2 linked regions of the Homo sapiens genome follow. The protein of the gene in region 2 interacts with the protein of the main gene of each other region in a biochemical or structural test. Each region holds a gene or a part of one and is shown on either strand. Other genes may lie near its edges.

The links. The genes of interacting proteins can lie anywhere in the genome.
Region 1: the proteins of UTP20 (region 2) and PPP1R26 form a complex in vitro, tested with the Homo sapiens proteins (one study listed by BioGRID).

The regions. Positions count from the first base shown.
Region 1 is NC_000009.12:135,482,774-135,489,408, forward strand, and holds the end of PPP1R26 (protein phosphatase 1 regulatory subunit 26), read left to right. Parts: 5' UTR 1-42; exon of another isoform or gene 43-52; intron 53-578; exon of another isoform or gene 579-780; intron 781-1,176; 5' UTR 1,177-1,309; exon of another isoform or gene 1,310-1,675; 5' UTR 1,676-1,737; coding exon 1,738-5,367; 3' UTR 5,368-6,119; downstream 6,120-6,635. UniProt on the Homo sapiens protein: Inhibits phosphatase activity of protein phosphatase 1 (PP1) complexes. May positively regulate cell proliferation.
Region 2 is NC_000012.12:101,275,649-101,283,109, reverse strand, and holds the start of UTP20 (small subunit processome component 20 homolog), read right to left. Parts: upstream 3,006-7,461; 5' UTR 2,828-3,005; coding exon 2,783-2,827; intron 1,995-2,782; coding exon 1,914-1,994; intron 1-1,913. UniProt on the Homo sapiens protein: Part of the small subunit (SSU) processome, first precursor of the small eukaryotic ribosomal subunit.

The DNA.
Region 1 (6,635 bases), on a different chromosome or scaffold from region 2:
CTGCCATTTCATCACAGTCAACCTGGACTCACAGAATTTCAAGTAATTTCAAGTAATTCTTGTATTTTAGTTTCCCTTGTAGGGCACAAATTGGTGCTAGCAAATGACTTACTTCTGAATCTGTCTCACCCCCTGGTTAATTGCTGGTTACCCCTTTTGGGCTCACCTGTGTGTAGGTGGCCAGGCTCACCTTTTGTTTCTTTTTCTTTCTTTCTTTTTTTTTTTTTTTTTTTTGAGATGGAGTCTCATTCTGTCGCCCAGACTGGAGTGCAGTGGCATGATCTCAGCTCACTGCAAACTCTACCTCCTGGGTTCGAGCAATTCTCCTGCCTCAGCCTCCCAAGTAGCTGGGATTACAGGCATGCGCCACCATGCCCGGCTAATTTTTGTGTTTTTTTAGTAGAGATGGAGTTTCACTATATTGGTCAGGCTGATCTTGAGCTCCTGACCTCAGGTGATCCACCCGCCTCGGCCTTCCAAAGTGCTGGATTACAGGCGTGAGCCACCACACCTGGCCACAGCCTCACGTTTTTGTGAAAAGATGGTGGCATGTAAATACCCAATTATGTGCTTGTCAGGAAGGAAGCGCCTGGTTAACCGGAGAAAGCTCCTGGTAAAGAAGAATCCATAACAGAGGCAAAACATACTGGCCAGTTTTCGCCCACTGCTGAGGTCCTGAGGGCAGCCACAGCCTCTGAGCCAAGGGGAGTTCAGTGTCCATAAGCCTTGGAGGCTTGCTTGCACAAGAACCGCTTTGCACTGCAATTTTGGGGTAGGCAGGTGGGTATCAGAGCAATGTGTTAAGAATGAATAGCTGCGCAGTATCCCTGGTATTGTTCTAAGTGACTGCCATCCACCTGAGCTTCCTCCCTGCAGTGGCAATCCCCAGGCCATTCGTGAGCAGGTCTTCAAAGTGTCCCAAGCTCAGCCCAGCACTTGTGCTGAGGCAGCCACCTTTGGTCTGAAATCTGGCAGCGCAGGATGAGAAGGGGGACATCACTGTGTTCAGGGTGACTTCTGTGCTAGTTAGCTAAGAATAACAATGCAGTCCCATGCGACCACCTGGCAAATTTACATTTGACATTTAACATAGAGAGGGTTTAGTAAAAGCAGCCCTTCAAGATGTTTGGGGAAATAATTTCTGAGTGGCTCACATCATACAACTTTCCGTTCCAGGAGCTTGTCGGTTGGGTCAAGAATGAACCTACGCATGACGGCGTGCTGATCCTGGGTTTCTAGTCATCCTTTTTAAGCTGCAAAGAAGCATTTGCAGACGTTGTCTCATGGGTACCGCTTGCCAACTTTGGAGGTAAATAAAACCTCTCCCCTCTTACAGAGAAGGTGGAAGCCCGGAGTGAGAAGGGAAGAGCGGGGAGGTGATGACCGTGCGTGCCCCGGGCGGCACCGTGGAGGGTGGTTGGAAACATTTTCTTACTGAATCTTCCCAGCAGCCCCGGGCTGGAGCAGGTAAATTGTTCCTTTCCCAGCTGAGGAATCCGAGGCCCCAGGAGCATGAGTAAGTCGTGCAAGGACACCCAGCTAGCTGGACGTTGGGCTCCACCCAACTCTCTCCACTCTGTGAGCCCGACATGCTGTTCCTCTGGGGCCTCGCTTGGTGTTGGCAGCTATCGCTGTTTGTAGCTGCATCATGCCCATGTGCTTTCTTTCCGCCCAGGATGTGAAGCCGGTAGAGAAATAAAGCATCGCCCCTCTGCGCGCCCCTCCCCGTCTGCTAGAATGTTTCTCATGAACGCTTCTCCAGTGGTTGCTCTCCAGTCCAAATGGGAGGCCTTTGGCCCGCCAGGGAGCTGTAGGTTCCCCAGGTGCTTCTCGGAGGCTGACGAGGGCGTGGAGAGCGCGTCGGTGAGCGCCCGGGTGCAGATGCTTATCAGCACTCTGCAGCGCGACGGGGCTGCTCGGGGCACCAGCGATGAGCGCGCCGCACAGAGGGGCCACAGGGCAGAGGGATGCCACGACGCCAGGCCGGCTGCCAAGCCCACCGTGCACAAGGAGCCACCCGCGTTGGCTGTCTGTGGTCTCGTTGCTGACTTTGACCCCATGGGGGAGGAGGAAACTACAGACTTTGGCCCGTTGGTGCTAGATTCAGACAGTGATGATTCCGTGGACAGGGACATTGAGGAGGCCATCCAGGAGTACCTGAAGGCAAAGAGTGGAGCCGCACAGCCCGGGGCCGGCGGGGCCCAGCCAGGTGCAGCCCAGCCTTCCAGGGCCGCAGGCGGAGGCAGTAGATGTAAGCCGGAACCGGCTCACGGCAGTGCCCCGACTGCCCTGTGTCCCCCAAAACTTGTACCTGGATCAGGTGGTGGCCCCGGCAGCCAGGTGGGATCCAGCAAGGACCAGGGCTCCGCCTCCCCGGTCAGTGTGAGCAGCGATGACTCCTTCGAGCAGAGCATCAGGGCGGAAATAGAACAGTTTCTGAATGAGAAGAGACAGCATGAGACCCAAAAATGTGATGGGTCAGTGGAGAAGAAACCAGACACAAATGAAAATTCCGCCAAGTCACTCTTGAAATCCCACCAAGAGCCGCCTACAAAGGTGGTGCATCGGCAGGGCCTGCTGGGCGTCCAGAAGGAGTTTGCCTTCCGCAAACCTCCCCGGTTAGCGAAGATGAACGTCCAGCCCAGAAGCCTCAGGTCCAAGGTCACAACCACGCAGGAGAACGAGGGCAGCACGAAGCCGGCAACCCCCTGCCGCCCTTCAGAAGCAGCACAGAATAAAGGTGGGATCAAAAGGAGCGCCAGCGCTGCAAGGAGGGGAAAGCGAGTCATGAGTGCGGCACAGGCGTCCGAGGCGTCCGACTCCAGCAGCGACGATGGCATTGAGGAGGCCATCCAGCTGTACCAGCTGCAGAAAACACGCAAGGAGGCCGACGGGGACCTGCCCCAGAGGGTCCAACTCCGAGAGGAGAGAGCGCCTGACCCTCCCGCACACAGCACAAGCAGTGCCACAAAAAGTGCCTTGCCCGAGACCCACAGGAAAACACCCAGCAAGAAGAAGCTAGTGGCCACCAAGACCATGGACCCTGGTCCAGGGGGCCTGGACACTGACCATGCCCCCAAGCTCCTGAAGGAAACCAAAGCTCCACCTCCAGCGAGCCCTGCTTCCAGGAGTGAGTTTGTGGAACGGTCCTCGTGCCGGGCGGACACATCTGCTGAGCTGATGTGTGCAGAAGCAATCCTGGACATCTCCAAGACGATCCTGCCGGCCCCTGTAGAGGGCAGTGACGGGTCCCTGTCCGCAAGCCCACTCTTCTACTCCCCGAACGTGCCTTCCCGCTCTGACGGCGACAGTAGCTCCGTGGACAGCGATGACAGCATCGAGCAGGAAATCCGGACATTTTTGGCCCTAAAGGCGCAGTCAGGGAGTTTGCTGGCCAGAGGTGAGAGCTGCCCGCAGGCTGCCCAGGGTCCACTTTTGCCGCCTGGCCTCAACAGCCAGACCGGCGGCCACAAGACCCCTCTCTCTAAAACACCAGACCCACTGCTGGGCTGCAAAAGGAAGCGTAGAGGTGGTGGCCATGTGAGGCCATCCACGCCCAAGAAAATGCAGGAGGTGGTGAAAGACGGTAGCCAGGATGCCGACCACAGCCAGGGGAGAGCTGAGCCCGGCCATGAGAGGCGAGACCTGCCCATCCAGGGCAAAGCCAGTGAGGCCCTGGGAGGGGAGGGCACCGCCAGGGGCCCTGGCGACACTCGCATGTCACAGGGCCAGGGTAAGACAGACGAGGCAAGGCGCCTAGACGAGAAAGAGAGCTCTGAAGACAAAAGCAGCTCCCTGGACAGTGACGAGGACCTGGACACAGCCATCAAGGACTTGTTAAGGTCCAAGCGAAAGCTCAAGAAGAGGTGCAGGGAGCCCAGGGCTGCGTGCAGGAAGAAGGTCAGGTTCAGCACAGCCCAGACGCACTTCTTGGAGCAGCTGGGCGGGCTCCGGAGAGACTGGAAAGACAGGGGCCCGCCAGTGCTGAAGAGCTGCCTCTCCAAGTCCAAGAGAGACAGTGGCGAGGGTCCTGGGAAGAAACCCCCCAGTGTCTTTGGCAGCACGGCAGAGAGGATGAGGCAGGAGGGTGCCGCGAGCCAGGACGCGGCCCTGGCCTTCCGGGTGAGGAGACCCGCCTCCGCCTCTGCCTCCGAAGGGAATCCATTCCCCAGGGAGTCCCAGGGCCCAGCTCCCAGCCCCGGCTCCCTGTCTGATGACAGCAGTTCAGTGGACAGCAACGACAGCATCGAACTGGAGATTAGGAAGTTTTTGGCGGAAAAGGCCAAGGAGTCAGTGAGCAGTTCAGAAGTTCAGGCAGAGGGCCCCACCGCTCTTGGGACAGGGGGCCCAGCCAGGCCAGAGGTGCTGTGCAGGAAGGAGCCTGCCCCACCGCCTGGCGTGTGCACACGCAGCCAGAGGGCCAGGGGGGTCCCACATCTGGCCGAAGGGCTTCGAGGCACAGAGAGCGCAGGAGCACAGGGCACAGCTGGTCTGTTCAGCCAGGGCGGGAAGGGGCTCCCTGCTGCTCCTGCCCGAGGGGATCCGGTGCCGCCCAGGAGCACCAGCGGCGGTGTCTCCGCCAAGGGGCTCTCAGTGAGCAGGAGAAATGTTTACGTTCACAAAGACCAGAGCCCACGAGGGGCTGAGCCTGCTGCCAAAAGTGCTTTTGGTCAGCTGCCCAGCTGTGCCACAGCGGGCACCGAGGCAGGAGGCGCCAGAGGAACCTTTCACATGGGCTGCGGGAGCCCGAGCTTCCTGACCCCCAGCCCGGGAGCGGAGAGGGACGCTGGAGCCCAGGCCGACCGCACACCGCCCTGGAGCGACTTCGCCCACCAGAGTCGGCTGCCCAGCCCGTGGGTGCTGCGCTCCGAAGGCAGAGATGCAGTGTGGAGGGGGGGCGTCGGGAGCGAGAGAGACAAGGGGTCCGAGGGCCCCGCCCGGGGCCTGCCCAGCCTGCCCCTTGCGGGCTTCTCGCCGCTGCTGTCCACCCAGCTCTTCCACTTTGGAAAGGGTGTCTCCTGGGGGGGCAGGCAGGCTGGCCTCTTCAGCCCCCACCTGGGGCTGCCTCTGCAGGGCCCCTCCTTCTCGGCCTTCAGGGAGGCCCAGGCCGGACCCAGCCCTGTCTTTGGAAGCCCACACTTGCTGGCAAAGAAGGACGGCGGCCCCTGGCCAACCAGGAAGGCACAGGCAGGGCTGAGTTTGCATGACAGGAGGAGCTCGGGCTCGGAGGAAAGCATTTTAGACCTGAGGTATCGACGAAGGGTCAACAGGGATGACCAGGAGCAGGACGCCTTGGGCAGTGACGCCAGTGACTTCAGCGACACCTCCACGGAGGACAGTGGCGGCAGCTCAGTAGTGAAGGTCTAAGCCCTCGAGCTGTGGGTTCGCGTCCTGGGTTGCGTGCATTCGTGGAAAGCGGCGTAGCCGTGCGTGTGTGTGATGGTTCCGTGGCTGCAAGGAAGGGAAACAGTCTATTATACATAGCCCTGTATATATGTACACCAACATGAAACTTTTATTTAACAGACGTGTCCTGGTAAATATGATTTTTGTAGCTTTTTGTAAATTATTTAAAGTGATGTAAAAGATATTTTTGGAAAATACTGTTGTTCAATTTTGTAGGGTGTTCCTAACTGCAGTTTTCTGTGTTCTGCATACAAGTCTTAGCTTAGGAAACATTTGGTTCTTACCATCACAGCCAGGTTCACAGAGGCTCTGATGCTTTTTGGTTGATTGCTGGTGAGAATGGCCGGCGGTGGCTGCAGTGGTAGCCTGAGGAAGGCCAAGCTGCCCTCCCTGGGAATCACTCAGATGCCCCAAGATGTCCGTTGGGAAGCTCCCAGGACAGCACTTTTTATACAGAGGACACCGCCTCGGCCCCACGTCCTTAGAGGCCAGAGCACATCTGAAAACTGCAATCACAGCCGTCCGCTGGAAAAACGTTTCGAAGCACAGTGGCCAGCGAGCGAGCACGTGGCTACTCCCTGTTGCATGTCAAATCCACACAGATGTCAGCGGCAGCTGCTCGGCAGCCCAGCCCTGGGCCTGGGTGGGTTCATGTCCAATCTTGTTCGATCACTAGATGATTCTAACATCGAAATAAACCTCTTTTTATATGGCGTTACTGTTCTTTTTAAATCATGGTTCTTAAAGATAACACACGTGCACTTAAAATGTCCTTTTCTCTGGCCGGGCGCGGTGACTCACACCTGTAATCCCAGAACTTTGGGAGGCTGAGGCGGGCGGATCACCTGAGGTCAGGAGTTCGAGACCAGCCTGGCCAACATGGCAAAACCTCGTCTCTACTAAAACTACAAAAATTAGCCAGGCATGGTGGCGGATGCCTGTAATCCCAGCTACTCAGGAGACTGAGGAAGGAGAATCACTTGAACCCAAGAGGCGGAGGTGGCAGTGAGCTGAGATCGTGCCATTGCACTCCAGCCTGGGTGACAAGAGTGAAACTCCATCTCAAAAAACAAAACAAAACAAATTTCTTTTCTTGCACACACCAATAAGCACTGCTTTGAACTTTGGTCCCCAGACACCCAGGGCAGAGATGACGTGCAAAACCCAGTCCTGGGGATAAGCGTTCTCCATACCTGCCCTCCAGAAACAGGAGCCCCGTCAGAGGTGTG
Region 2 (7,461 bases):
TATACTCCAGATCCATATATACAAACATCTTTTGGACACTATCATTTGGATGGCCAAAGGTATTTCAAATTCAAGCCCCAAATGGAACTAATTATCTTATCTTTACAACCTTGTGCTCCTTTACCTATAAATATATCTTGATGAGTAACATCCTCAACCATTCAGCCTTAACCTCATTATCTTCCTTGCTGCAAACCCAGTAGGTCACAAGTCCTATCCATTCATTCTACTTCCTCAACATCTCTGGAATCTTTCTCTTCTCTCTATCTTGATTGCTGCTACCATAATCATTTCTTACTTAGATAACAGTCAAATCCTCACAACTGGACAACTGAGATTGGATCTCCAAGTTAAAGGCATGTTACACAGGACCTTAAAAGGCTAGCAGAGGAATCATGACATGATGAAGAACTGCAGTCCTGCTCTTTTCTCCACACTAAAGCCAGAGAGATTGAAAATTTAAACCTGATCATGTCATTCATTCCCCTGCTTACAGTCCTAGAACTCTAAGTCCCTACAGCTTCAGGATAAAACCCCAACTTAGCTTCACATATGAAGTCCTTTATGATCCTTGCCTATTTCTCCAGCTTTATCTCACCAGTTGCCCCCTTGCCCCATCCCAGTCACCATGAATACAAAAAAAAAACACCCTATACACACCTATAACCACACTGGACTGCTTTGCAGTTTCTTGAATGTGACATGCATTCTCTAGCTTCTGTTCCTTTATATAGGCTTCTCCCTCAGCCTGGAACAGGCTTTCCTGTCCTCTTTACCATGCTAAAACCTATATAAACAAAATTCAGGTGTCACCTCGTCTAGATCACCGTTTTTTTGACACCCCTAAAGAATGTAGGTTAGGTTCCCTTTACTATGAGTTCTCAAAGCACAATGTGCTCACCTAGACGACATCATTTAACACATTGAATTTACACAGTGGAGATAATGCATTCAAAGACCCAGCGAGTGGAGTCTGATTATAGTAAAGAAGAATATTACGAACTGAGATTGGATCGCCAAGGTATAGGCATGTTACGTACGACCTTAAAATGCTAGGAGGAATAACGACATGATGCAGAAAAAGACTTCTGCATAAAAGGATGACAAGGCCGGGCGTGGTGGCTCACACCTGTAATCCCAGCACTTTCGGAGGCCAAGGCGAGCAGATCACGAGGTCAGGAGATTGAGACCATCCTGGCCAACATGTCAAAACCCCGTCTCTACTAAAAATGCAAAAATTAGCTGGGTGTGGTGGCACGTACCTGTAATCCCAGCTACTCGGGAGGCTGAGGCAGGAGAATCGCTTAAACCTGGGAGGTGGAGATTGCAGTGAGCCAAGATCACGCCACTGCACTCCAACCTGGAGACGGAGCGAGACTCCATCTCAAAAAAATGAATAAATAAATAAAAGTAAAATAAAGGGATGACAGAGTCAGAGTATGGTTAAAACTGGAAAATATTATGTAGTCTAGCCCCTTTATTTTTATAAAGGAGAAAATTAAGCCCCGGGAAAAGGGCTTCCTCAAAATCACTTTAAAGTTATAGCTTCAGGAATATGGATCTGCAGCAGTGCTTGGAATGCATAAGGGAAAGGGAGAGGCTAGAATCACAAAGACAGCTGAAAGTCAAGTCAATTGTCTAATAGAGCTTCACCCAACAGAACTTTCTGCAAAGATGAAAATGTTCCAATTCTATATTTATTCAATATGTTAGCAACTAGCCACATTTGGGCACCCAAATTTTTAATTTACTTTAAATCCAATTTGTCATATGTGGCTACTGTATGAAACAGCACAGGTCTAAAGCATTTCATGTCCAAAAAGGAATACCTTGAAAAACAATTCACTTCTACTAACAGAAGAAACTAAAACACCATGAACACTTGAAGATTGACTAGTATCACATTCTCTTACCTCCTCATAGCTTGCAGTTCTATCAATCCGGTGAATAATATCAATATTAACATTCCCCAGTCGTTCAGCAAATGTAAGAAACTGGAAGGGAAAGTATATTTAAGATACATAATTAATTAAAATTTATCAGATCTTTAATATCTATTTGAATGCTGCATGTAGGCATCTCTAATCACAAAGGATAAGTGGAAAAATAAACTGAAAAACATACGGCCGTAAACAAATTTACTGCATCACTGTTCAAAGATAATGAATACTTCTATGTTTGCATAATTTCTCTCAGCTATGTCATTTCAAATAAAATTTCCATTGCCAGACTGGTGAGCCTAGGTGGATGCTGGCAATTAGTCTCGCTAGATCTATTAGGTTTCATACCCTCCCATAAGCATGGGGACCTAGCAAAGTCGCTGCAATAAAAGTGTTTTTAAACATATACAGACCTATGATTGTATCCTAAGGAAGACCTGGAAACAATCTATCAAGGGGCAAACAGAGAAAGCGCTGTATATTTGCCCTTAGCTGGGAATCACTCACCGCCAGCCGACTCGCCCAATTCGGTCTTTAAAGATAAAAGAGCAGGGGAGAATTGGTCCTAAGCAATCTCCTGGAATAGTGAATTTAATTCTGGACTACAGGAAATTCCCAGGACTGGCCAGACCCCATAAAACATGGGTGAAACTTGCTGTCCACACTTCTTTCCTCCTCCAACCCATGTTTACTACATCCAGTGTCTCCCTCTTTCGCCGGAGCCTCCAGGAAAGTGACACACTCGGCCCAGAAGTCTGAGGCCCCTGGAGTCTCGCTCAGAGCCTGTCTCACGACTGAGGCAGCGGAGACCCGCGGCTCCCTGCCTAAGCTCCCGCGCTCACCCGGTAGGTGTTCTCGGTCTTGTGGGAAACGGGCTTTGTCTTCATGGCTGCAGAGGGCCAGTGGCCCGCGACGGCCTCGGGAGTGTCGAAGGGATGCAACCGACAGTAAGGAGGGGAAAGCGGCTCACAGGCTATACTCTCCGATTCCCAGATGCCCAGACTTTCTCACGTGCGGCTTGAGCCCCTGGGCGCCGCCATGTTGGAGACAAGGAGGAGCCTGAGTGGGTCACGTGGACGGAAAAAAGAACGGCGCAGGCGCACCCTTTGGTGGGGTGGGGCCTACAGGAGGCGGGGCTGCGCACATAAGGGCGGGCGTTTGGGTGAGGTGTTCTTTTCACTCCCTTCGGTAAAGGTTTAGAAGACAAATGTATTTTCATTATAAAATAAAACATACCTGTAATCGTTATCAACTAACATTACTGTCCCTCACTACGTACCTGCATCGTGCAAAGATCCTTTCATCCATAATTTCACAGTAAAGCTTATTAGGGATGTTAATACAAAGGAGGTACTGCGTCTATCTATATATCTATATATAGATATATACTTTTTTTTTTTTTTTTTTGAGACGGAGTCTCACTCTGTCTCCCAGGCTGGAGGGCAGTGGCGCGATCTCGGCTCACTACAATCTCCGCCTCCCGGGTTCAAGCAGTTCTCCTGCCTCAGCGTCCAAAGTAGCTGGGACTACAGGCACCCGCCGCCACGCCCGGCTAATTCTTTTGTATTTTAGTAGAGACGGGGTTTCACCTTGTTGCCCAGGCTGGTCGCGAACTCCTGAGCTCAGGCAATCCGCCCGCCTCGGTTTTCCAAAGTGCTGGGATTACAGGTGTGAGCCACCGCGCCTGGCCGGTACTGTGTATATTTTTAAGCCAATTTGACACAAGAGGAAACCAAGGTTGTGCAGCTGGTAACTGGCAGTCTTCACTCAGACTCTAAATTTTGGTATTCTTAACCACTACGCTGTAAATAAAATTGAAAAATAGAGAAGGAGTTTTAAGAAAAATCTTTTAATTTCATGCACAACCGCTGTTAATGTTTGGTGTTTTTCCCATCACTTTAATGTCTACACATAGCATGTTGTTAAATTGTACAGTTATATATACATATATGTACAATTTTAAAAAATAATTTAAAAATATAATTATTTACCCCATTTTACATTCATTCATTCATTCAGCAACTATTTCTTGAGAGTCCTCTGTGGACCAGGTACTGTTCTGGGAGCCAAACGAGAAAGGCAATAATAGTATTAATTAATTATTTGAAAATATTCACAGCCTTCAATTCCTGGGCTAAAGTGAGCCTCCCACCTCAGCCTCCCAAGTAGCTAGGGCTACAGGCATGCACCACCACACCCAGCTCTTTTATTATTATTATTATTATTATTATTATTATTATTATTATTTGTAGAGATGGGATCTTGCTATATTGCCCAGGCTGGTATCAAACTTCTGGACTCAAGCAGTCCTCTTGGCTTGGCCTCCCAAAGTGCTGGGATTACAGGGGTGAGCCACCATGCCCAGACTGGAAATACTTGGTCTGAGATGCTTACATTTTAGTCAAGGAGTGATGTTAAGTAGACAATTGGATATATTGTTGTACAGAGCTCACTGTAGCAGTCTGGGCTGCAGACGTGACTTAAATACACCTAAATACCTCAAGTGTGAGGCATTTGCGACTGGGAAAGAGAGCCAGTAAGGTAGAAACAGACTAGTTATGGCATGGAAGCAGAGCTGGTGGCCAACTATACTGCAAATTCGAGGATAGAGAAGTGGTTGCTGGATCTGACAAGGTGAAGGTCACTGGTGACCTTGCTAAGTACAGTCTAGTTGGAAGAAAGGAAGTGAAATATGCATGGATTGAGGAGGTAATCAGAGTTGAGAAAGTGAACATAACACTTTCAAATTGTTATTGGCATTATCACATCAACATTTTCTGTGTCACCACAGGGTTGTTCTAAATATTTTAATGCCTCCATAGCATTTATAGATTTTTTTATAATAAAATATTGACGTGCCTAATGTTCCATTGGCTTTCAGTAGGCTAATAATTGGTCTTTTTTTTTTAAAAGCCTTTTATGGGTCACAGGGAAATCTAAGAAAGCTGTAGAACTTCTCCCAGAAAGATGCAAAGAAGCTCATCCACACTAAAATGTGCACGTTTCAGAGAGTTAGAAGCCTGCAGTTAACTGAGGGTAGAAGCCCCCACTCAAAGCAATATTTTCCCAACCTGTTGCCAAAATCACCCCCACATCATTGTGCCATTTTCCTTCTCTGCAATTTATTTTTGGTAATGGAGTTAACTGGACAATAAGGAGTGAAGAGAAAAATCAAAGAAACTGAAAGAACTGACACAAGTTATATTGACCATTTATTGTTTGCATTGTTCTTCATTACATGACCCTCACACACTGACTTGACTCTGACTGGCTTAACAATATGTCAATAGAACATGGTGGTTGAGAGCATAGATGCTGGAACCAGGTTGTCTGGAGGTAATCCTGGTTCTGCCATTTATTAGTAGGGTCAGTTACCCTTTCAGAATGACATTTCCGTATATGTAAATGAAGCTAACAAAAGTAGCTACCTCACGGGTGGTGATTATGCAGAGTAAATAAGCTAATGGATAAAAGATGCTTAGAATGTGCCAGACACCATAATTGCGCAAGCTCAGAAATTACTTAACCTTTCTGAGACCCAATTTCCTCATCTATAAAATAGAGATGACAATAATACCAGTCTTTCAAGATACTGTGTTGGTGCATAGAGCATGAAATAAATGTTTGCTAAGTGGATAAATAAATGACCATTTATTCTCTACTACCTGGCTACCTGACAAGTTCCTTAAGGGCTGACACCTTATACTTTTTCAACTTTGTGTCATCAGTTCCCTTGAACATAAGAGTTGTTTAATGAATGTCTGTTGAATTAACAAAGCTTATAATACTTACATTGACCCGGACAAATTTAAGAGTAATATAGTTCCAGCATTGGATGTGAATTGCACCACATGATTTTTGGTATCTCTCAAAACTAAGTTTCTAAGCTTTAATGGAATACCGAAAGCATCCGTGAAGAGCACGAGTGTTTCTTATAAACATTTCCTTGCTTCCAGCGTTTGTCCTCTGTCAAGGTATAGGATGAATATCCTATACCATCCTTTATATCCTTTTTCCATTAGGGCTCTGCCTGTCCTAACTACTCCAGCCAGTAAATAACATACATTATTTTTTCATTCTTTTATTCTTAAGCTTTATAGGGCGCTCCTGGAAGTTTTGCTTTTTAATTTTTGTTTCCTTATTGCTTAGCGTGCTGCAATTTCAAGCCAAGAAACTTTAAGAGCATGTAAGAGCTAGGCCCAGTGGCTCATGCCTGTAATCCCAGAGCTTTGGGAGGTCAAGGTGAGAGGATTGCTTGAACCCAGAAATTTGAGACCAGTCTTGGGCAACAAGGCGAAATCCCATCTCTACAAAAAATACAAAAATTAGCCAGACATGGGGATGTGCACCTGTAGTCCCAGCTACTCAGGAGGCTGAGGTGGGAGGAACACTTGATCCAGGAGGTCAAGGCTCCAGTGCTGTGATCCTGCGACTGCACTCCAGCTTGGGTAACAGAGTGAGACCCTGTCTTGAAAGAAAAAAAAGGAAGGAAGGAGAGGGAGAAAGAAGGGAAAGTAAAGGAAAGGAAGGGAGGGGAGAGGAGGGAAAGGAAGGGAAGAAAGCACATGAGGAGTTTACCCAGCCTAGACAAGAAAGTGGAATCCAGAGAAGGCTTCTTGGGGGAAGTGACATCTAAGCTGAGACCTGGAAAATGAATAGGAATTAGCCAGGCAAGGAATGGACATGAATGGTGTTATCTAGGTAGAGGGAGGAGTATAGGCATTTGTCTCAAAATGGTTGAGACAAATTTGGTTACTTTTAGTTTCCAAGGCAAAGCCACACCCTGTCAAATTAGCATTGGCCATGGGTATCATCTTTAGCATCCTTGGACTAATAATAGGAAAGAATAGGGACAAGATGAAGCTCAGAGGTAAGAAGAGCCTTGGTTTTCTCATCTGTAAAGTGAGATAGACATATGAGAAAGTCAACAGTCATATGAGACAGTTGAAAGATTAACACATTGTATCACTTCTCACAGTCATATGAGACCGTTGAAAGATTAATTAATACATTGTATCGCTTCTCAGCCTTTTGGCTAAGATCAAGTCTAGTAATTAACACATTGTATGTGGTGATCTGGAAGGGGGCAAGTCGACCTAGTGGCATGGTCTTGTTTAGAAAGCAGTTCAAGGAGTGCTGTGTATCAGGGCAGAGAGGATTTGACTCAGAACAAGGGACCAAGGAAGTGAATGTAAAAAAAAGAAAGAGAAGAGAAAGTTTTAGTAATTCTTTGTTGGTTTTTTCTTAAATAGAGACAGGGGTCTCACTACATTGCCCAGGCTGGTCTTGAACTCCTGGGCTCAAGCGATCCTCCTGCCCAGCCGAGTAGTTCTTGACTGTGGTAGTAAGGAAAGCTGATCCACGTATCTCTTCTTGAGAAAACTGTGTATTGTTGACAGTGTGTGTAAATCAGGAAGCAGTGAGAGCATGGAGTTTGGATTTGGGACAACTGGGTCCCAGTTCTAGCATTTTTCATGTATTAGCCAGTAACTGGGCAACTGACTTAACCTTTCAGCCTCAG